Linked DNA regions of Homo sapiens. The protein of the gene in region 1 purifies or fractionates together with the protein of each later gene. This does not show direct contact. Each region holds a gene or a part of one and is shown in the gene's direction. Other genes may lie near its edges.

Region 1 (3,500 bases):
CCAGGCGTGGTGGCACACGCCTGTAAACCCAGCTACTTGGGAGGCTGAGGCAGGAGAATTGCTTGAGCCCGGGAGAGGGAGGTTGCAGTGAGGCGAGATCATGCCACTGCACTCCAGCCTGGCTGACAGAGCAAGACTCCCCTGTCTCAAAAAAAATAAAAAAAAACAGTTCGTAGGGCCCCATACCCCACAACCCCTGTCTCCTGCACTTAACTCCCACCTGGGTCAGAGAACAGCCAATTCACCAGTGAGGTAGAAGTGAACCCAGAAGAAATAGCCACTTGATTTTAAAATTCCCAGCTCCATTCCGTGGCCTTCTCCCCACTAGACACAGCAGTCCCAGGCCTCCTGTTCCCTCCTCACCTAGAGGCAGCCGGGACGGAGGGGGAAGGGCCAGGCAGCAGCTCAGCTCCGGCTTCTCTAAAGCCACTCTGGGCACGTGGCCCAGGAGGGCCACCTAGTGATCCAGGCCCCCCCCCAGGACTGCCCTGGGAAGCCACTGTCCCTCCCACTCCAGTAGGGAACACTCACTGGCTGGGAAAAGACAATGTGGATCTTCTTTTGGGCTGACCAAGCCAGGAGGGCACACCCTCCCACTGCCCCTCTCTGCCTCCCACTGATTGTCCCTCAGCCTGATGGGGTGTGACAGCTGCAATTAGAGGCAGGATTCCTTCCCACCCTCAAAGCATTAATAGCCAGTTGGAGAGGCAAAATAGTAAGAAAAGGCTCTTCTGCTTGCTTCCTGGATCCCTGGGGAGAGTGGAGAGAGGGGCAGAGCTCAAGATGGGATTATGGGGGCGCAGCCGCGGTGGTTAGGGTCACTCTCAAATCCTACCCAGTCAAATGGTAAGATGTTTCATTTTTGGTGGGGGAGCTGCAGGAGGGAGGAAGGCGCTCATGCTTTTTGGGTTTTGTTGAGCACTCACTGTCTGTCAGGTAATGTGCACATCTCTCAAACTTAGAAGGACCCTAGAAGGCATTGTTCTCCAGACACATCTATGGAGGTTATTAGGGGGCGTGTAAACTGCCCCGATTAGGCTGCTAGCAAAGGAAAGGACAGAGATTTGAACAGAGGGTTGGGTTATCTGGCTCCAAAACCCCTGTCCTTTTCTTGCTATTTCTCTACCTGGAGTTTGCCAACTGAGCAAGCCCACTCTGGTGGAGCCAGCCACTGCAAATCCTTTGTGTCTTCCCAGAGAATACCAACATTTCAGTTTTGAGTGAGGGAACGTTGGCTCTGACTGCCTTTGGAGGTGGAGATGGTGGAGGTGGTGGTGGTGGTGGTGGTAGTGGTGGTGTGTGTGTGTGTGTGTGTGTGTGTGTGTGTGTGCCTGCGCGTGCTAAGAAACTGCATGTTAAGATTCCACCTACTGAATCATGAGCGGAGGAAGTCGTGGGACACTGGCTGGTGGAGAAGCCATCTAGCATATTATTCAAGATGACACCAGCTCCAAGTCTGGAATGAGTCTGTGGGAAACCAAGGTACTTCTTGGACATTCACCTATAACTCACGTGTTTCGTGGACTGGTCACAGTGGTTCGGATAAATTGAACAGAACTTTATGAACACCTCCCAGCACCAGGTGTTGTTATAGAAACTAAGAACAGAGCAATGAGAAGGACCCAACTCCTGCTCTCAAATGGATGCAGTGGAAAATAAGCAGACTTTGAACCATTGGTTAGTCAGAAGAGACTTGGGAGACTGAAAACTTGTTTCAACTTGGGCCAGAACAAAAAATTAGGAAGCAACACTTGCTGCCAACATGATTTACAAGTGCCAGCACCTTCACCTCTGTTACTTCCTTCTCACTACACACTGAAAGCAGTTGCTCTTGTTTTACATGGACAGGCTCAGAGAAGTTAAGCAACTTGTCCAAGGTCACACAGTAGTGGAATTGAGATTGAATCAGTTCCAACTGACTTGCAATCTTGTGCTTTTCAGACGATCCCACTAATTGTCCATATCTGTTCCAAAGCCAAATCAAGAGGAACAAGAGCAAAATCTGTCCTCTCATATTATTCATGGTCCTGCGTGGATCATAAATGGCATGCTGACTGTCTGATGGAGACTTACTTTTCCCTTCCCCCTGGACACCTGCCATGGCAATGACAGAGGCTGTATTTTACTGAAGTGGAGGGAAGAGGTGAATGCAAATGCCTAGGGCCTAAGTATACAGGAAGGTGTAGGGAGAGGTAAGCAGTGTGTATGTGGAGGAGATAGCAGACGTAAGCAGAGAGAAATCAGAGAGCTTAGTTCTTCCTCTGGGGCGCACTTTGTGGTTAATTAGGACATGCAAATGAGCTAGAAGCTCATTTAATATCCTCCCTGACATGTAGCCCCACCCCACCCTGCCCCACTTCCCTGGCAGGTACAAGGGCCACCTGATTGGCCCAGGTATCTGTGGAAGGTTCCACCTGCTTCTTTGTGGCCCAGGGAACAGAAAAGAGTCCCTGCTGGGCATGCTAGTGGGGCCGGCCTGGTCTCCCTCCTCCCTTTCTCTTCCCAACCTTTCAGACTTGGGACCTCTCTTTTCCCTCTCCCTCAGACACTTCCCTTGTGCCCCGCCCCTCAGGGTGATCTCTGAACCCAAACTTGCCCCAAAGAAGGTTGCTCTGTCCTCTCCACATCCCCATCTCCTCCCTAGGGCCTTGTTGGGGAGAGGCTCCTCCATCTTTCCCAAGTCACACCATCGTTTCCTACGTGGTCTGGACAAGAGCAAGAGCACACCTTGTCCCCACCTTCTCCAGAGCAGCCAGAACCCACCTCAGGTGCCTTCCCCATCCGGTGCAGTTAAGGCACTTCTGCCAGCACCATGGTATGAGCACTAGACTTGGAGTTAAGATTTGAGAGCCCCCTCTGTCACTGTGGAAGCTTGAGCATGTTGCTTGATCTCTCTGAACCTTGTGTTTCTCATCTGTGAAAGGTGATAATGTGGGGCTGCTGTGAGATTTAAAGGACATAATGCACCTACGGTCCAAGCACTGCCTGGAATACAGCAGAAGCTCAGCAGATACTGGACAACCCATCCCCTTAGTAGAGGCACTAACCATGTGACCCAAGGCAAAAGTGCTTAAGAAAAAGTGCTTTCTCTGAGCGTTGGTCTCTTCTTCTGTCGAAACATTTATATTGATTTAATATCTCACAGGATTGTAGCAAGGGTCAGAGAAGACAATAGGTGACATGTTTTTGTACACTGTATACTAGCCACCCAGATGGGCTGTTATTTGCTAAATGGCAAATTTACACTGTTCCCCAAAGGATGACATGCACTGGGGAGGCGGGGGGTGTGGAGGTGGAGAAAGGCTGAGCTTGGAGAAAAGGTGCTTGAGGACCCCACTGCCTAAGGACCTGCTCTAGGAAACATTCCCACTCCCTACACCCTAGCTGCCCCTCACAGTCAACCCTTAAGGACCTCAAATTCTTGGCAAGGGGTAAAGAGTTGAAAGTGCCAAGTCCTAGTGGTTTTGAGAAGCCTCTGGTCTGCTCTTTCTGCTCTGTAA
Region 2 (5,614 bases), on another chromosome or scaffold:
AGCATAACTGTCTAACCCAGCGACTTTCAGAGCAAACACACCCATGTAACCAGCACCCAGATCAAGAAACAACATTCCCAGCCTCCCAGATGCTACCTGTGCCCCTCCTAGTCACCCCCACCTTCTGCCTCCCAAAGGCACCTGACTTTTTTTTTTTTGAGACAGGGTCTCACTCTGACTCCCAGGCTGGAGTGCAGTGGCCCAATCATGGCTCACTGCAGCCTTGACCTCCCTGGGCTCAGGTGATCCATCTCAGACTCCCAAGTAGCTGCGACTACAGGCATGCACCACCATGCCCAGCTAATTTTTCTATGTTTTGTAGTGACAAGGTTTTGCTATGTTGCTCAGGCTGGTCTCAAACTCCTGGGCTCAAACAATCCTCCTGCCTTGGCCTCCCCAAGTGTTCATATTACAGGTGTGAGCCACCACACCCACCCACACATAACTTCTGGTGTAGTAATTACTTTGTGAGTTTTTGAACGTCACATGAATGGGATCATACAGTAAGTTTTCTTTTGCGTGTCTGGTGTCTCGCCTGCGTGGTGTCTGTGAGATTCAGCTATACTATGGGTATGACAGTAGGCTGTTGTGTCTCATTGCTGGGTGTTTCCATTATGTGATATGGCCCAGTTTCTTTATCTACTCTGTGCTGACAGGCATGGGGTAGTTTCCAGTTTATGAGCCATTGTGAATAGGGCAGTGTATGTGTCTTGTAAACAGGTGTACCCTTCTGTTAGGTGTATACGTGGGAGACGAATTGCTGGCTCATAGGACTGGCATATGCCTGGCTTCAGTAGATACTGACAGTTGCTTTCCAAAGTGGTTGTGCTGGTCTGCACTCCCCTGAGCAGTGCACGAGGGTTCTAGTAGCTCCATGTCCTCGCCTGCACCCCTCTGTCTAATTGCAACCCTTGTGGTGCGTGTGGGGAGGTATCTCAATGAAGTTTTATTTTGTTTTTTTTTTTTTTTTTTTTTTTGAGATGGAGTCTCGCTCTGTCCCCTAGGCTAGAGTGCCGTGGCGTGATCTTGGCTCACTGCAACCTCCGCCTCCCAGGTTCAAGCGATTCTCATGCCTCAGCCTCCCCAGTAGCTGGGATTACAGGCGCACACCACCACGACCAGCTAACTTTTTGTATTTTTAGTACAGATGGGGTTTTGCCATGTTGGCCAGGCTGGACTTGAACTCCTGACCTCAAGTGATCTGCCCGCTTCAGCCTCCAAAGTGCTGGGATTACAGGTGTAAGCCACGGTGCTCGGCCTTCAGTGAAGTTTTAATGTGCGTTTCCCTGGTGACTATATTAGTTTCCTATCATTGTTGTAACAAATTACTACTAATTTAGTGTTGCAGTGTCACACCTCATGGAGCCTCTGGTGTACTTGTGAGAGAATGAGAATCAGAAAGGCAAATAATGTCTTAGTATTATTAAGACAACAGTTTTGACCTTGCAGACTGTCTAGAAATGTGTTGGGGGACCACAGGGTCCTAGGACCCACACTTTGAGAACCACTGATCTAGAAGAGTATTGGACTCTTATAGCCTAGGAACAATGGGAAATGTTTAAAAGGATTTCCTATCCATATTTTTTATTTCTTGCAGAGACATATAACAGGGTGATCACTAAAGCAAGTATTTTCAGGCTGGGCACAGTGGCTCACACCTGTAATCCCAGCACTTTGGGAGGCCGAGGCGGGTGGATCACCTGAGGTCAGGAGTTCAAGGCCAGCCTAGCCAATATGGTAAAACCCTGTTTCTACTAAAAATACAAAAAATTAGCTGGGTATGGTGGCATGCACCTGTAATCCCAGCTACTTAGGAGGCTGAGGCAGGAGAATTGCTTGAACCCAAGAGGCGGAGGTTGTAGTGAGCTGAGATCGTGCCATTGCACTCCAGCTTGGGCAACAAGAGCAAAACTCGATCTCAAAAAAAAAAAAAAGAATTTTCAAGCACAAAAGATATGATGTGCCAGGTGCAGTGGCTCACACCTGTAATCCCAACACTTTGGGAGGCCAGGAGTTCACTTGAGTCCAGGAGTTCAAGGCCAACCTGGGCAACATGGCAAAACCCCATCTCTACTAAAAATATAAAAATTAGCTGGGCGTGGTGGCACATGCCTGTAGTCCCAGCTACTCGAGAGGCTGAGGCAGGAGAATCACTTGAGCCCAGGAGGTCAAGGCTGCAGTGAGCTGTGATTGTACCACTGCACTCCAGCCTGGACAACAGAGTGAGTCCCTGTCTCAAAAAAAAAAACAAAAAGAAAAAACGATGTTAGATTAAAAATGGGTGGCAGAGAGGGAAGTGGAACGGAAATACAAGTTCAAAGAGAAAAACAGGACATGTATAATTTTCTGCTGTTGAAACAGCTTTTTCTTGCATTTTTCAAATGGTCTCAAATTATTACAGTATTTAGATTCCATCAGCTACACATTTACGTTGCTGGAAATTGTATCCTTTGCAACTGTTTAAGCTTGGGAGAATTTTTAGGTGGCAACTTAGAGATGAGTGAGACAAGTATATAATGTTACTAGATCTTCTCTCTTCTCTTCTTTTTCTTTTGACAGAGTCTCTGTCTGTCACCAGGCTGGAGTGTAGTGGTGCAATCTCCACTCCCTGCAACCTGCACCTCCCAGGTTCAATGAGTCTCCTGTTTCAGCCTCCCGAGTAGCTGGGACTACAGGCATGTGCCATCACACCCAGCTAATTTTTGTATTTTTAGTAGAGACAGGGTTTCACCATGTTGGCCAGGATGGTCTCGATCTCTTGATCTCGTGATCCGCCCCCGCCTCGGCTTCCCAAAGTGCTGGGATTACAGGCATCAGCCACTGCACCTGGCCATCAACTTCTTTGTTTTTAAATTTAATAGAGATGGATCTTGCTGTGTTGCCTAGGCTCATCTCCATCTCCTGGGCTCAACAGTCCTCTTGCTTCAGCCTCCCAAAGTTTTGGGATTACAGGCGTGAGCCCTGAGCCTGGCTCTAAATCATTTTAAGGGATAAAAAAGCCTGCAGGGGCCAGGCACAGTGACTCACGCCTGTAATCCCAGCACTTTGGGAGGCTGAGGCAGGTGGATCACCTGAGGTCAGGAGCTCAAGACCAGCCTGGCCAACACGGTGAAACCCCGTCTCTACTAAAAATACAAAAAAATTAGCCAGGCGTGGTGGCAGGCACCTGTAATCCCTGCTATTTGGGAAGCTGAGGCAGGAGAATCGCTTTAACTTGGGAGGCAGAGGTTTCAGTGAGCCAAGATCATGCTATTGCATTCCAGTCTGGGCAACAAGAGTGAAACTCCGTCTCAAAAAACAAACAAACAAACAGGCATGCAGGCTGTTTACTGGCCAAGCAGTCTTGGTGAAAGCTGCCCAGCCTCTGTGGGTTCAGGGCTTCTCCTTTTACAAATGAACTCCAGAAAAGTAGGGGGCTCCCTTCCTCACACCATACACAAAAATTAACTCAAAAAGTAAAAGTTAAAATGATCAAACCCCTAGAAGAAAACATAGGAATAAATGTGCATTATCTTGGCTTAGGCAATGTCTTTTTTTTTTTTTTTTTAATTGTGACAGAGCCTTGCTCTGTCTAGGTTGGAGTGCAGTGGCATGATGTCGGCTCACTGCAACCCCTGCCTCCTGGGCTCAAGTGATTCTCAGTGCCTCAGCCTCCCGAGTAGTTGGGATTACTGGCGTGTGCCACCACGCCCAGCTAATTTTTGTATTTTTAGTAGAGACGGGGTTTCACCATGTTGGCCAGGCTGATCTTGAACTCCTGAACTCAAGTGATCCACCTGACTCAGCCTCCCAAAGTGCTGAGATTACAGGCGTGAGCCACTACACCTGGTCTGAAACCACTTTAAAAGGGTTAATTTTATGGTATGTGAATTGTGTCTCAATAAAGTCATTTAAAAGGGTGGGGGTTGCCCTTAAGTATGGGGAATGATCAAAGGTATCAAAGTAAGGTGGCAAAATGTTGACAGCTGCTGGACCGCAGGACATGGGTACATCATGGGGGTTCCTTATACTATTCTGGTTTTGTATGTGTTTGAAAACTTACAGAATAAAAAAAGCTTTGCTTTTTGAATTGAGCTCCAGGGTTCTGGGGTCTTCTCTTCCTCCTTTACCTGCAGTGGGAGTGGAGGTAGCTCTTCCCCTAGACACAGAGCCCTACTCTGACCTGCCCTCTGATCGGTCGATCTGAGACATAATCACAGCTGCTAGATCCAGTCGCTAGTGGACTGGCAGGCAGCGATTGGGTCAAGCCTTAGCTAAGTGTCAAGCCTTAGCTAAGTGCCCAGCCTTGAGCCAATCACTGGGCTGGTCCACGCCTTGGCCTCAGTCAGAGCTTACAGATATGAGAGGGGAAGGGAAGGTGGAGTGGATTCATCAACAATAGTGGCCCCCTTGGTGTCTTTTTTTTTCCCCTCCATTAAATGGCACAGCCACCACCCTAGCTAATCTGAAGTAGTGGCTAGAATTTGAACTCTGGTCTCTCACCCTCTTACCTCCAAACAAAGAGTTTTGTTGTTAAAGGTGCTATTTTCACATATAAATGAGTCTAGGTGAGTCTGGAAGGAGGACTTCCTGGAGGAGGCCTGGCGACCACATGCCCTCCCTCTCTTCCACCTCACCCCCCTTCTCCGCCTCCGCTTTCCCATCAAGGGGGGCAGATCAGCTCTGAGGGCTGCAGAGGTCTTCCCTGTGCTGCCTGCCTCCGGTAACCACAGTCCTGCCACTGTCCCTTCCTCCCTAGGATGACGCGGCATGGCAAGAACTGCACCGCAGGGGCCGTCTACACCTACCACGAGAAGAAGAAGGACACAGGTGCAGGGCTGGGGTGGGAAGAGGCGGGACATGGCTGTGTCTTGGAGTCACCCTCTCCCCTCGTGCCCCAGGTTTTGCTTCCTCTGTCCCTGTCTCTCTCCCGCCCCCGATATACACTGATGGCCATGACCATGTAAACAACAGCTGGGTGATCCCATGACCCCATGTGGCCCGGCACTGTGTTCTCTGCCTTCTGCGCATGAACTCACTCCTCCCAACAGAGTGTCAGGGAGGGTGCTCTTGTTACCCCATGTTCCAGAGGAAGAAACTGAGGCCCAAAGAGGGACAGGCACTTGAGCTTGGTCACAGTCAGAAGGGTGGAGGGGAGTCAGCCGTCAGCCCCTCCACCAAGCTGCCACTCAGTGACCAGGCCTGTCTGCCTCTCACCCTCCAGGGTTGACAACTCCCTGTGGGTTCAGCCCGTGGCCCCAGCACACAGGCAGCGGCTCCCAACTGCCTGTTTCTCTCTGAGTCCCCCACCCCCACCACCGCGTTGTCTCTGTGCCTCTCTCTGGGGCTTTGGAGACGGACATGTCTCCTGTTGCTCCGCCCCTCCATCACTCTGCCCATCTCTGTCCCCAGCGGCCTCGGGCTATGGGACCCAGAACATTCGACTGAGCCGGGATGCCGTGAAGGACTTCGACTGCTGTTGTCTCTCCCTGCAGCCTTGCCACGATCCTGTTGTCACGTGAGCTGGGAACAGGGATGGGTAGGTCTGGGTGGGGAGAGCAAGGGAACCGCCAGGAGGAGGCTGTGTGCGTGGGTCTGGCCACCTGCACAGCCAGGGAACCCTGGATGAGCAGTT
Region 3 (5,614 bases), about 83 Mb from region 1:
GTCAGATTCCTACTTACCCAGTTACTACAGTCCCTCCATTGGCTTCTCCTATTCTTTGGGTGAAGCTGCTTGGTCTACGGGGGGTGACACAGCCATGCCCTACTTAACTTCTTATGGACAGCTGAGCAACGGAGAGCCCCACTTCCTACCAGATGCAATGTTTGGGCAACCAGGAGCCCTAGGTAGCACTCCATTTCTTGGTCAGCATGGTTTTAATTTCTTTCCCAGTGGGATTGACTTCTCAGCATGGGGAAATAACAGTTCTCAGGGACAGTCTACTCAGAGCTCTGGATATAGTAGCAATTATGCTTATGCACCTAGCTCCTTAGGTGGAGCCATGATTGATGGACAGTCAGCTTTTGCCAATGAGACCCTCAATAAGGCTCCTGGCATGAATACTATAGACCAAGGGATGGCAGCACTGAAGTTGGGTAGCACAGAAGTTGCAAGCAATGTTCCAAAAGTTGTAGGTTCTGCTGTTGGTAGCGGGTCCATTACTAGTAACATCGTGGCTTCCAATAGTTTGCCTCCAGCCACCATTGCTCCTCCAAAACCAGCATCTTGGGCTGATATTGCTAGCAAGCCTGCAAAACAGCAACCTAAACTGAAGACCAAGAATGGCATTGCAGGGTCAAGTCTTCCGCCACCCCCGATAAAGCATAACATGGATATTGGAACTTGGGATAACAAGGGTCCCGTTGCAAAAGCCCCCTCACAGGCTTTGGTTCAGAATATAGGTCAGCCAACCCAGGGGTCTCCTCAGCCTGTAGGTCAGCAGGCTAACAATAGCCCACCAGTGGCTCAGGCATCAGTAGGGCAACAGACACAGCCATTGCCTCCACCTCCACCACAGCCTGCCCAGCTTTCAGTCCAGCAACAGGCAGCTCAGCCAACCCGCTGGGTAGCACCTCGGAACCGTGGCAGTGGGTTCGGTCATAATGGGGTGGATGGTAATGGAGTAGGACAGTCTCAGGCTGGTTCTGGATCTACTCCTTCAGAACCCCACCCAGTGTTGGAGAAGCTTCGGTCCATTAATAACTATAACCCCAAAGATTTTGACTGGAATCTGAAACATGGCCGGGTTTTCATCATTAAGAGCTACTCTGAGGACGATATTCACCGTTCCATTAAGTATAATATTTGGTGCAGCACAGAGCATGGTAACAAGAGACTGGATGCTGCTTATCGTTCCATGAACGGGAAAGGCCCCGTTTACTTACTTTTCAGTGTCAACGGCAGTGGACACTTCTGTGGCGTGGCAGAAATGAAATCTGCTGTGGACTACAACACATGTGCAGGTGTGTGGTCCCAGGACAAATGGAAGGGTCGTTTTGATGTCAGGTGGATTTTTGTGAAGGACGTTCCCAATAGCCAACTGCGACACATTCGCCTAGAGAACAACGAGAATAAACCAGTGACCAACTCTAGGGACACTCAGGAAGTGCCTCTGGAAAAGGCTAAGCAGGTGTTGAAAATTATAGCCAGCTACAAGCACACCACTTCCATTTTTGATGACTTCTCACACTATGAGAAACGCCAAGAGGAAGAAGAAAGTGTTAAAAAGGTAACCCACTTCTTCTTATTAAGATTTTTAGGGAAGGAGGAACCAGAGAGAACAGAAGAGGTATTATATAGTGAACCGTTAATAAAAACTCTGTAAATGAATACAGTATCACCTAACAGTTCAAGGCTTTATAGAAGTATAATTGGTTTTAATACTTGAACCCTAATGTGAAGGAATGTGAGAACATTAGTAGAGGACAGAAATACGGACTTTGAAAGGAAAGCAAAAACAGTACAAGGAAATCAGACAGAAACAGTACATGATGCAGAAAGAGGTGAAGAATGAGTCAAAGAGATGCAGAGGGGTAATGGAAGTGATAAAACCATAGAAATTAAAGCAGAAGATTGAGTCTATAATATGGCAGAGAAAAATCGAAATGTTCTCTGTTGGATTAACTTGGCCTAGCTGGGGTTTTGTGGTTATTTTCAAGAGTCAATATGTCATCACCAACTCTTGAAATCACTTCTGTCTTCCCTGTGACAATTGGCGGTGTAAAAGAGTCACTTCTGATTTCCTCTGTAACAAGTGGGAATCTTGGGCAGAATGATGAGGAATGGATTCAAACTAGAGTTGAATTTGAAAGAGTTGGTAGCGTTTGCTCTGTGAGTATTGAGTGAATGTAAACTTTAGGATTATAAGAGGATGATAAAACTGGTTGGAGCAGATAATGATATATTATCTGGGATTTATACTTACTTTTTTTTGGACAGGGTTCTCTGTTGCCCAGGCTGGAGTGCAGTGGCATGATGTCCGCCCACTCCAGCCTCCACCTTCTGGGCTCAAGTGATCCCCCCATCTCAGCTTCGTGACTAGCTGGGATCACAGTCATGCACCACCATGCCCGGCTAGTTTTTCATGTTTTTTGTAGAGCTGGGTTTTGCCATGTTGCCCAGGCTGGTCTTGAACTCCTGAGCTCAAGTGATCTGCCCCTGCCTCCCAAAGTGCTGGGATTACAGGTGTGAGCCACTGCAGCTGGCCTAGACATTGTTAAATGTAGGAAGTAGGTGAAAAGTTTATGAGCAAGGAGAAATTTTTCTTTGAAGATCTGTGTATTAGTGGTTGAGAGAATCCTGAGTTGATTAATCTCAAATATAAAATAAAGTCTAACAAGCAATGTTTTCCTTAAATTTGTTATGAATTCATAGGGATCTTATACGTGATCTAGGATCTGAGGCATTGTTAGGCTGCTCTATGAGAATTTACTCCTTTTAGCAGTGGAGGAAGGGCTCGTTGGTACAATCTTCTTGGAGGTACATAGTTGTTAAAGTAGGGATGGTTGCTATTTTATCTTTCAGTGGGTACAGATTAATAAGAAATGGGAGTTACACTTGTCAGTGACACTAAAAGCATTGGGAATGGAGAACCAGATTATTGAAAAGTTGGCTAATAAACTTCCTTTTTGATAGTCCTTTAAACTCCTCTCTTCCCCACAGTTTAATAGTTTAACTTAAAGTCTTCCATATTAAGCCTGGCGTCATGGCTCACGCCTATAATCCCAGCACTTTGGGAGGCTGAGGTGGGCAGATCACCTGAGGTCAGGACCAGCTTGACCAACATGGAGAAACCCCGTTTCTATTAAAAGTACAAAATTAGCCGGGTGTGGTGGCACATGCCTGTAATCTCAGCTACTTGGGAGGCTGAGGTAGGAGAATCACTTGAACCCCGAAGGCAGAGGTTGCGGTGAGCCGAGATCGTGCTCTAGCCTGGGCAACAAGAGCTAAACTCCCATCTCCCCCCGCCCCCCCCCCCCAAAAAAAAACTAACATATTTTGGCCTGGCGTGGTGGCTCACACCTGTAATCCCAACACTTTGGGAGGACGAGGCAGGAGGATTGCCTGGGCCTAGGAGTTTAAGACCAGCCTGGGCAATGTAGTGAGACCCCATCTCTCTAAAAAAGAAAAAATTAGCTGGGCATGGTGGCACACACCTGTTGTCCTAGCTACTTTGGAGGCTGAGGAAGGAGGATCCCTTGAGTCCAGGAGTTAGAGGTTGTAGTGAGCCATGATTGCATCACTGCACTCCAGCAGGGGCAACAGAGTGAGACTCTGTATCAAAAATAAATAAAATTTACAGTATTTTGTAGAAAAAGATAGTTTATTGGTGCTTTTTGCTAGACATCTGAAGGGCTCTAAATGGTCATCAGGCTTCTGTTTCTAGAGGGACAAGTAAGGAGGCCATGATCTTTTAGGCATCTTTTAGTAGCATAGCAGATTTATAGACGTCTGAGGGGCATCTAGGTGCTTGGTTTGTCCACTTGAAATGTGTACTATCTTATTAATCTTTATAATAAAATTCTGTCCTACATCTTGTGATTAAAAGCAGGAAGGAAATGATGAATTTAATGCACAGCATAGTTGTTAAGATAGACTTGTATGTGTTAGGGCCAGTGGGGAAATACAGGGTGATTTTCTTTTCAATTTTGCATTGCTGGGGCCAGATGAAGAAATATGGGTTTAGAAATGGAGTAGCAGGCTGGGCGCAGGTGGCTCATGCTTGTAATCCCAGCACATTGGTAGGCAGAGGCGGGCCGATCACTTGAGGTCAGCAGTTTGAAGCCAGCAGTTTGAGGCCAGCATGGTGAAATCCCGTCTCTACTAAAAATACTACAAAAAAAAAAAAAAAAATTAGCTGGGTGTGGTTGTGGGTACCTGTGATCCCAACTACTTGGGAGGCTGAGGCAGGATAATTTCTTGGACCCGGGAGGCAGGGGTTGCAGTGAGCTGAGATCCTGCCACTGCACTCCAGCCTGGGCGATAGAGAGAGACTCTGTCTAAACAAACAAGTAGCAAATTTAGGTTTTGTTAATTTAGCTTTTGGCCAGGCTCTGGCTCACGCCTGTAATCCCAGCACTTTGGGAGGCCGAGGTGGGCGGATCACCTGAGGTCAGGAGTTTGAGACCAGCCTGATCAACATGGAGAAACCCTGTCTCTACTAAAAAATACAAAATTAGCTGGGCGTGATGGTGCATGCCTGTAATCCCAGCTACTTGGGAGGCTGAGGCAGGAGAATCGCTTACACCTGGGAGGCGGAGGTTGCAGTGAGCTGAGATGGTGCCATTGCACTCCAGCCTAGGCAACAAGAGTGAAACTCTGTCTCAAAAAAAAAATTCAGCTTTTAATCAAGTATGTATTTTGATTATGTTTGCTAGAGTGGTTCAGTTAATGATAATTGAACTTGATATGTAGGTGTAAGATTCGTTTGTTGGAATTGACCAGCCTTTTAATGTTTTCATAGAATGAGTGCAATAGTAAACAGAATTTAGCGTCTTTGGTAAGCTAACTAATGGCTCTTTTTAAAAACCATTGCCCAGCGCGGTGGCTCATGCCTGTAATCCCAGCACTTTGGGAGGCCGAGGCGAGCAGATCACGATGTCAGGAGTTCGAGACCAGCCTGGTCAACATGGTGAAACCCTGTGTCTACTAAAAATACAAAAATTAGCTGGGCATGGTGGCAGGTGCCTGTAATCCCAGCTACTACTTGCAGTGGGCTGAGATTGAGCCATTGCAATCCAGCCTGGTGAAAGAGCAAAACTTGTCTAAAAAAAAAAAAAAACCATTCCATAAAGACTTTTTTTTTTTTTTTTGAGAGACGAATCTCACTCTGTCGCCCAGGCTGGAGTGCAGGGGTTTCACTGTGTTAGCCAGGATGGTCTTGATCTCCTGACTTTGTGATCCTCCCGCCTCTCCCTCCGAAAGTGCTGGGATTACAGGCGTGAGCCACCACGCCCAGCCCATAAAGACTCTTGATAAGTGAGTATCCTAGTTCTCAGCCGGTGAGCAAACCACCAAATAAAGGCTTCAATTATACTTCTGTCAGGTTACTTTTTAGTTTACTCTCTTGTAAGAACTGCTGGCACTGGCCGGGCGCGGTGGCTCACGCCTGTAAGCACAGCACTTTGGGAGGCTGAGGCGGGCAGATCACAAGGTCAGGAGATCAAGACCATCCTGGCTAACATGGTGAAACCCCGTCTCTATTAAATAAACTACAAAAAATTAGCTGGGTGTGATGGTGGGCTCCTGTAGTCCCAGCTACTCGGGAGGCTGAGGCAGG
Region 4 (5,614 bases), on another chromosome or scaffold:
GCTTCTGTCACAGCTTTATCACAATCTATTTTAAAATTTACCTTTTAACAGCCTGAGGAACATAATGAGACCTGGTCTCTACAAAAAAATTAAAAAGTTAGGCTGGGCACGGTAGCTCACGCCTGTAATCCCAACACGTTGCCGAGGTGGGTGAATCACCTGAGGTCAGGAGTTCGAGACCATCTTGACCAACATGGCAAAACCCCGTCTCTACTAAAAATAGAAAATTAGCTGGGCGTGGTGGCGCATGCCTGTAATCCCAGCTACTCAGGAGGCTGAGGCAGGAGAATCACTTGAACCTGGAAGGCGGAGGTTGCAGTGAACCAAGATCGCGAGCCTGGGCAACAAGAGCGAAACTCTGTCTCAAAAAATAAATAAATAAATAAATAAAAATTAGCTGGGCGAGTTAGTCACGCCTGCGGTCCCAGCTACTCGAGAGCTGAGGCAGGATGATCAGCTGAGGCAGGAAGATTGCTTGAGCCTGGGAGGTTGAGGCTGCAGTGAGCCATGACTGTGCCACTGCACTCCATCCTGGGCAAAACAGCAAGACCGTGTGTTGAAAAAAAATTTTTTTTAACCTCTTTGTCATTATAAAGACAGACTGGCTTAGAGATCAAGACTGAAGTTGGGGCTTACACTGCCTTCTTCTAAATATACTTATGCCTAATTAATAGTCTGGTTACTTGGTTATTTGTTGGCAAATTCTTTTTGTGAATGGGCCTTAGCTTAATGGCAAGCAGAAATACTTATCAGGCATCCTGTGTGCCAGGTACTTTGCTTAATGTTTAGAGGATTTAACAATGAACAAGATACAGTCCTTTCCCTCAACACGCTCATAGTCTGCTTCTTACATTCTTGACCCACTTTGAATCTATAGGGGCATAAATAACCTGCTGTTACCTCAACAGCAGGCAGACAGCTGGTATGATATTTATTAGTAGAAGTTAGGGAATGGGTTGGGACATGGGGAAGGTTGGGCTGATTCCAGAGATAAAAACTACTATTGTAATTACTAGAGGAATAGGAAAATCATTAGAAGTATTATCAGTGGATAAGCACAAGGATCTTCCCCTTGCAGAGGATTATAGGAAGGAAGTTCTAGGATAGATTACAAGGAAAGATGTATTAGTGATATGCCATAATTATGGTATTTAACATTGTGGTTAAATCTGAAAAGTGCTCTTTAAAAAAATGTCATTCAGATCTTAAGGGCAGATTTTAATGTGTGATACAGATCAGTTCCTATTACAGTGAAGGACAAGAGACTGTTCAATTTCTTCTTTTTAGCCAGAATGGTAATGGTTTTGTCACAGCAATTTAACAAGGCTTCCATTTTGTAAGTTTTTCCAGCAGTATAAACATTTTAAGGACAATAGCTAGGTTCTTGGGATACTTGTCTGGAAACGAATATTTTGGTTAAAACATGTTTTGTTGATTTTTAAAAATAACAGCTTTATTGAGATATGTGTCTTATACCATATAATTCACCATTTAAAGTGTACTATTCAATGGTTTTTGGTTTATTCACAGAGTAGTATGTTGATGTGTTTGTGGTCAACCTGCCTTGCTCCCAAAAGAATTAAAGGAAACTATGATATCTCATTGCTTCTGATTTTGAAAATATTTGCTAGTCTTGACTTGCCAGTGGATATCTATATCATACATCATCCATAGGTGCTTTTGGTAACTAGAAGCAATTCTACATTTGTGGAGTAGGGTTTATCAATTAGACCTAGAAGGATTATCGGGAACATTATAATGAATGGCATGCTATTCCTCCTGTCATCATGTTCCCAGACACCATGGATAGCACCATGGTATCCATGCTATAGGATGGTCAAGATTACTTGAAGCTGGGTTTTTTTTTTTTTAATTTTTTATTTTTTTTGAGACAGGGTCTCACTGTGTCACCCAGGCTGGAGTGCAGTGAAATGAACATGGCTCACTGTAGCCTTTAACTCCTGGGCTCAAGCTGTCCTCCCACCTCAGCCTCGTGAGTAGCTGGGACCACAGCTATGCACCCAGCTAATTTTTAAATTTCTTCTAGAGATAGTCTCAGTATGTTGCCCAGGCTGGTCTTAAACTCCTGGACTCAAGTGATCCTCCTGCTTCCACCTCCCATAGTGTGGGATTACAGGCATGAGCCACCACACCCAGCCTATTTTATTTATTTATTTATTTATTTATTTATTTATTTATTTAGGTTCAGGGTCTCACTCTGTTGTCCAGGCTGAGGTGTAGTGGTGTGAACATGGCTCATTGCAGTATCGACCTCCCAGGTGCAAGCCATCCTCCCACCTCACCTTCCTGGGTAGCTGAATCTACAGGCATGTGCTACCAAACCCAGCTAATTTTTGTACTTTTTACAGAGACAGGATCTTGCTGTGTTGCCCAGGCTGATCTCTAACTCCTCAGGTCAAATGATTCTCCTGCCTCGGCCACTCAAAGTGTTGAGATTACAGACATGAGCCACCATGCCTGGCTTATTTTTAATTTTAAAAAAGTTTTAATTTTTTTGTTTACTTTTGTGTTTTGTTTTGTTTTTACCTGAAGCTGTTTGATTAGGAGGTTCCCATGTGTGCTGAGATGCTGAGTATTGTAACAGTGCAAAGACAATCTAAAATTCCACATTTGCAAAGCATGTTAACTTGCCTAGATGAAACAGCTCTTAAGGTCAGTAGATTGTATATGTGTAACTTTCCATTCCCAACATATCCTCTCATATATACAGGAGCCACATGGCCTAGATTTTTTCTGGGATAGATCCACTTTTATATTCTATGGCACTGTCTCTTCAAACTACTGATCTTGGAAATTCTAATATTTTCATGTCGAGACTGTATTTCTCAGACTGCTTCCAACATCTTAAAGAGGAACAGAAATCTCATCTCTGATCATGTGCCCTGACTTGGAGTTTGGCAAGGATGTTAGCTGTCCTCAAGTCTCCTGTCATGCCCTTTCCATTTGAATTTCCTCCTGGTGTTCCTAGGCCTGTTAACGACTTGCTGTTCTCCTAGTTCCGCAGCTTGGAAACCTCCGTATCTTTTTTCTTGTCTTTCACATTCGACTTCTTCTATATCAATTCTAATTTCAGTTGACATCCAGCTGATAGCTCAGATTTGGAACTCCCACTAGTACTCTTTTTCTCTGTCTTAATGTCCCAAACATGTTTCTGTCTTATTACGGTTACTGTATTTGTGTATATGTTTACCACTCCCACGATACTCTAAGCCCCCTGACATGCTGTTTTGTTTACCTCCTGTAGAGCCTAGCCCAGTGTTACACAGAATAGCTGCTCATTGAATATTTGTTGAATGAATACTTAAGCAGGGGAGGGATGGAATGAAAATAATGGTTTGGCATGATCAGTCCACTTGTAGGGACGAAGCAGGGTATAAAGATGTGGTTAAACAAGTAAACACATTTTCAGGCATGTTGAACAGGATGAGTAATAGAACTGGGAACCAGGGAGACCAGGAAACTTTCAGGAAACAAAATGTGAAGTGGTGAAGGTCTGGTGGACTGAGGCAGGGGCAGAAGGTGTGGGAAAGAAGAGGATAAATCCGAGAGACAGGTCTCTCCGAGATGGATTACATATAGGATGGGAAGGAGCAGGAGTAGTATGAAATAATGCCAGTAGCTCCAGACTTGGAAACTGAAAATTAATTCCTGTTTCATCACAAATTTTGACTGCCTCTGTGGAACTTGAATGCTACTAAGAAATACTTCTTTACATAGCTTGACAAAGCAAAATGCCCATTATTTCCTCTTGAAATTTGTTACTGTTTCTTGAAGTGTGAAAGTTTTGTGTATTGTCCAGAAAAGATTACAGAGAGATTCTGATTCTAATGAGAATTGCTGCTGCCACATATTTTAGATCTTCCTGGTACTTTTAGCTTTTTTTTTTTTTTTTTAAATAATGAAAGAGAACTGGAGGAAGCTTTATGAATGGGCTTCCAGGGATTTAACTGTAACCTCAGGGGAGGGGTGACAGGGAATGCTAACTCGTGTATGGGAGAATGTGGGAGAGGAGAGATGATCCGCCTTACTTCTTACCTCAGAAGGTAATTTAGTTTCTCTGTTTTTCATTTTATGATGAATTTTGCCTCCATTGGGAGAATTCAGGAGTACGTGGTCCACTAGAGGATAGACTTGGATGTATTTGTCTCCACTTCAGGCAATTCCCAGTGAAGTATGAGGTACTGTTGGAAGTCTAAACTTCTGATCTGTGGAGTAAGGTCTGGCCATAGACAAAATATTATGTGAGCAATTCCACTTCTTCCACCTCACCTGAAGGCATGTCCTCCATCCTACAGTGGTCTTCCTAGACTTATTCTATTTATCTTCCTAGGGAGTTTGTCCTTTTCTCCCCAGCACCACCCCACTCCCAATCTTTCATCAACTTTATTGAGGTATAATATACTTGAAAAGTCCCTCATTTTAAGTGTACAGTTTGATGAGTTTTGACACATATATTCTGTCATGTAACCACCGCCACAAACAAGATGCAGAACATTTCCATCACCCCAAAAGTTCCCTTGTGCTTTGTCTCTTATCTTCCCCAACATCTTCAGGGAGTTTACTGGAGTTATGCTTGCTCATTAGGGCAGAAGGAAGTTTTTTCTTTTTGGTTTTTCCGAAATGAATGCTATGGTTCCACCTTAGCCCAACCAATAGAGATACTTATTACAAAGGCCTGGCATTGGAGATCATGGCTGTGGAGTTTCATTTTCAGTGGGAGGCGGAAGTGGATATAAAAGGAGTTTAGATGATTTTTGTTTAATCTTTCCTTCACACACTGACCACTTTGCCTTTATTAATGATGTCTGCCTTTGATGCCTTCTGAAATGCCCTTTGGTTAATTTTGCCCTTTAACGGTTCCTCTTCCCCATCTGTCTTGGTTGTAACATCAGTCTGAGTTTGTGCTGATACAACCTAAACTTTGCAGAAACTTATCCCTGGCTCTTCATGCCTCAGGCATTCTCCATTTCTCTTCTAAGCCCTCCTCACTTGGAATTCTTTTTAACTAGCAGGCATTAGCGTTAAATATCTCCTTGTACAGCAAAGGCTTTTTGCCAATTGTAGAACTTAGGGATGATGTAATTATTTTTTGATTTCAAAATAATGGTTCTAAACTTGATTGAAATCAAGGGAGAAGTGCATTGTACATAATGCACTAAGTGTTCATGAGGACCATGTATCTACCTCCTGTGGCCTAATGTACTACTGTGGCCAAAAATGTGGGCAAGATGCTGGGCTAGAGGGAGACTGGATGCACAAAAAAGATAGGTTTTGTCCATCTTTTGTCACATATACAAAAACATATAGTCCTGGCCAGGAATCCTGCATGTGTGGTTGGGGTTTCTACTTCTTGACAAATGTACATGAAACTAGAGAAATTTCAGAATAGGAGAAGTAAAATGATCAGGGCAGTGAAGAGGCTAGACAGATTAAAGGTGTCGAACTCTCTAGTTTAGAAAGATGAAGGTGAGCTGGGAATACAGTAGAGGTTTTTTTTTTTTTTTTTTGAGACAGAGTCTCGCTCTGTCACCCAGGCTGGAGTGCAGTGGCGTGATCTCAGCTCACTGCAACCTCTGCCTCCTGTGTTCAATCG

Evidence for each region.
Region 2: the proteins of INKA2 (region 1) and NOSIP purify together in Homo sapiens (affinity purification with mass spectrometry, with the first as the bait; one large-scale study listed by BioGRID). This does not show direct contact.
Region 3: the proteins of INKA2 (region 1) and YTHDF2 purify together in Homo sapiens (affinity purification with mass spectrometry, with the first as the bait; one large-scale study listed by BioGRID). This does not show direct contact.
Region 4: the proteins of INKA2 (region 1) and MYO5A purify together in Homo sapiens (affinity purification with mass spectrometry, with the first as the bait; one large-scale study listed by BioGRID). This does not show direct contact.

The regions. Positions count from the first base shown.
Region 1 is NC_000001.11:111,722,396-111,725,895, reverse strand, and holds part of INKA2 (PAK4-inhibitor INKA2), read left to right. Parts: 3' UTR 1-3,500. UniProt on the Homo sapiens protein: Inhibitor of the serine/threonine-protein kinase PAK4. Acts by binding PAK4 in a substrate-like manner, inhibiting the protein kinase activity.
Region 2 is NC_000019.10:49,559,817-49,565,430, reverse strand, and holds part of NOSIP (nitric oxide synthase-interacting protein), read left to right. Parts: intron 1-1,140; exon of another isoform or gene 1,141-1,274; coding exon of another isoform or gene 1,275-1,276; intron 1,277-4,738; coding exon of another isoform or gene 4,739-4,739; coding exon 4,740-4,809; intron 4,810-5,391; coding exon 5,392-5,497; intron 5,498-5,526; exon of another isoform or gene 5,527-5,614. UniProt on the Homo sapiens protein: E3 ubiquitin-protein ligase that is essential for proper development of the forebrain, the eye, and the face. Catalyzes monoubiquitination of serine/threonine-protein phosphatase 2A (PP2A) catalytic subunit PPP2CA/PPP2CB.
Region 3 is NC_000001.11:28,742,423-28,748,036, forward strand, and holds part of YTHDF2 (YTH domain-containing family protein 2), read left to right. Parts: coding exon 1-1,564; intron 1,565-5,614. UniProt on the Homo sapiens protein: Specifically recognizes and binds N6-methyladenosine (m6A)-containing RNAs, and regulates their stability. M6A is a modification present at internal sites of mRNAs and some non-coding RNAs and plays a role in mRNA stability and processing.
Region 4 is NC_000015.10:52,521,142-52,526,755, reverse strand, and holds part of MYO5A (unconventional myosin-Va), read left to right. Parts: intron 1-2,553; exon of another isoform or gene 2,554-2,574; coding exon of another isoform or gene 2,575-2,673; intron 2,674-5,614. UniProt on the Homo sapiens protein: Processive actin-based motor that can move in large steps approximating the 36-nm pseudo-repeat of the actin filament. Can hydrolyze ATP in the presence of actin, which is essential for its function as a motor protein. Involved in melanosome transport.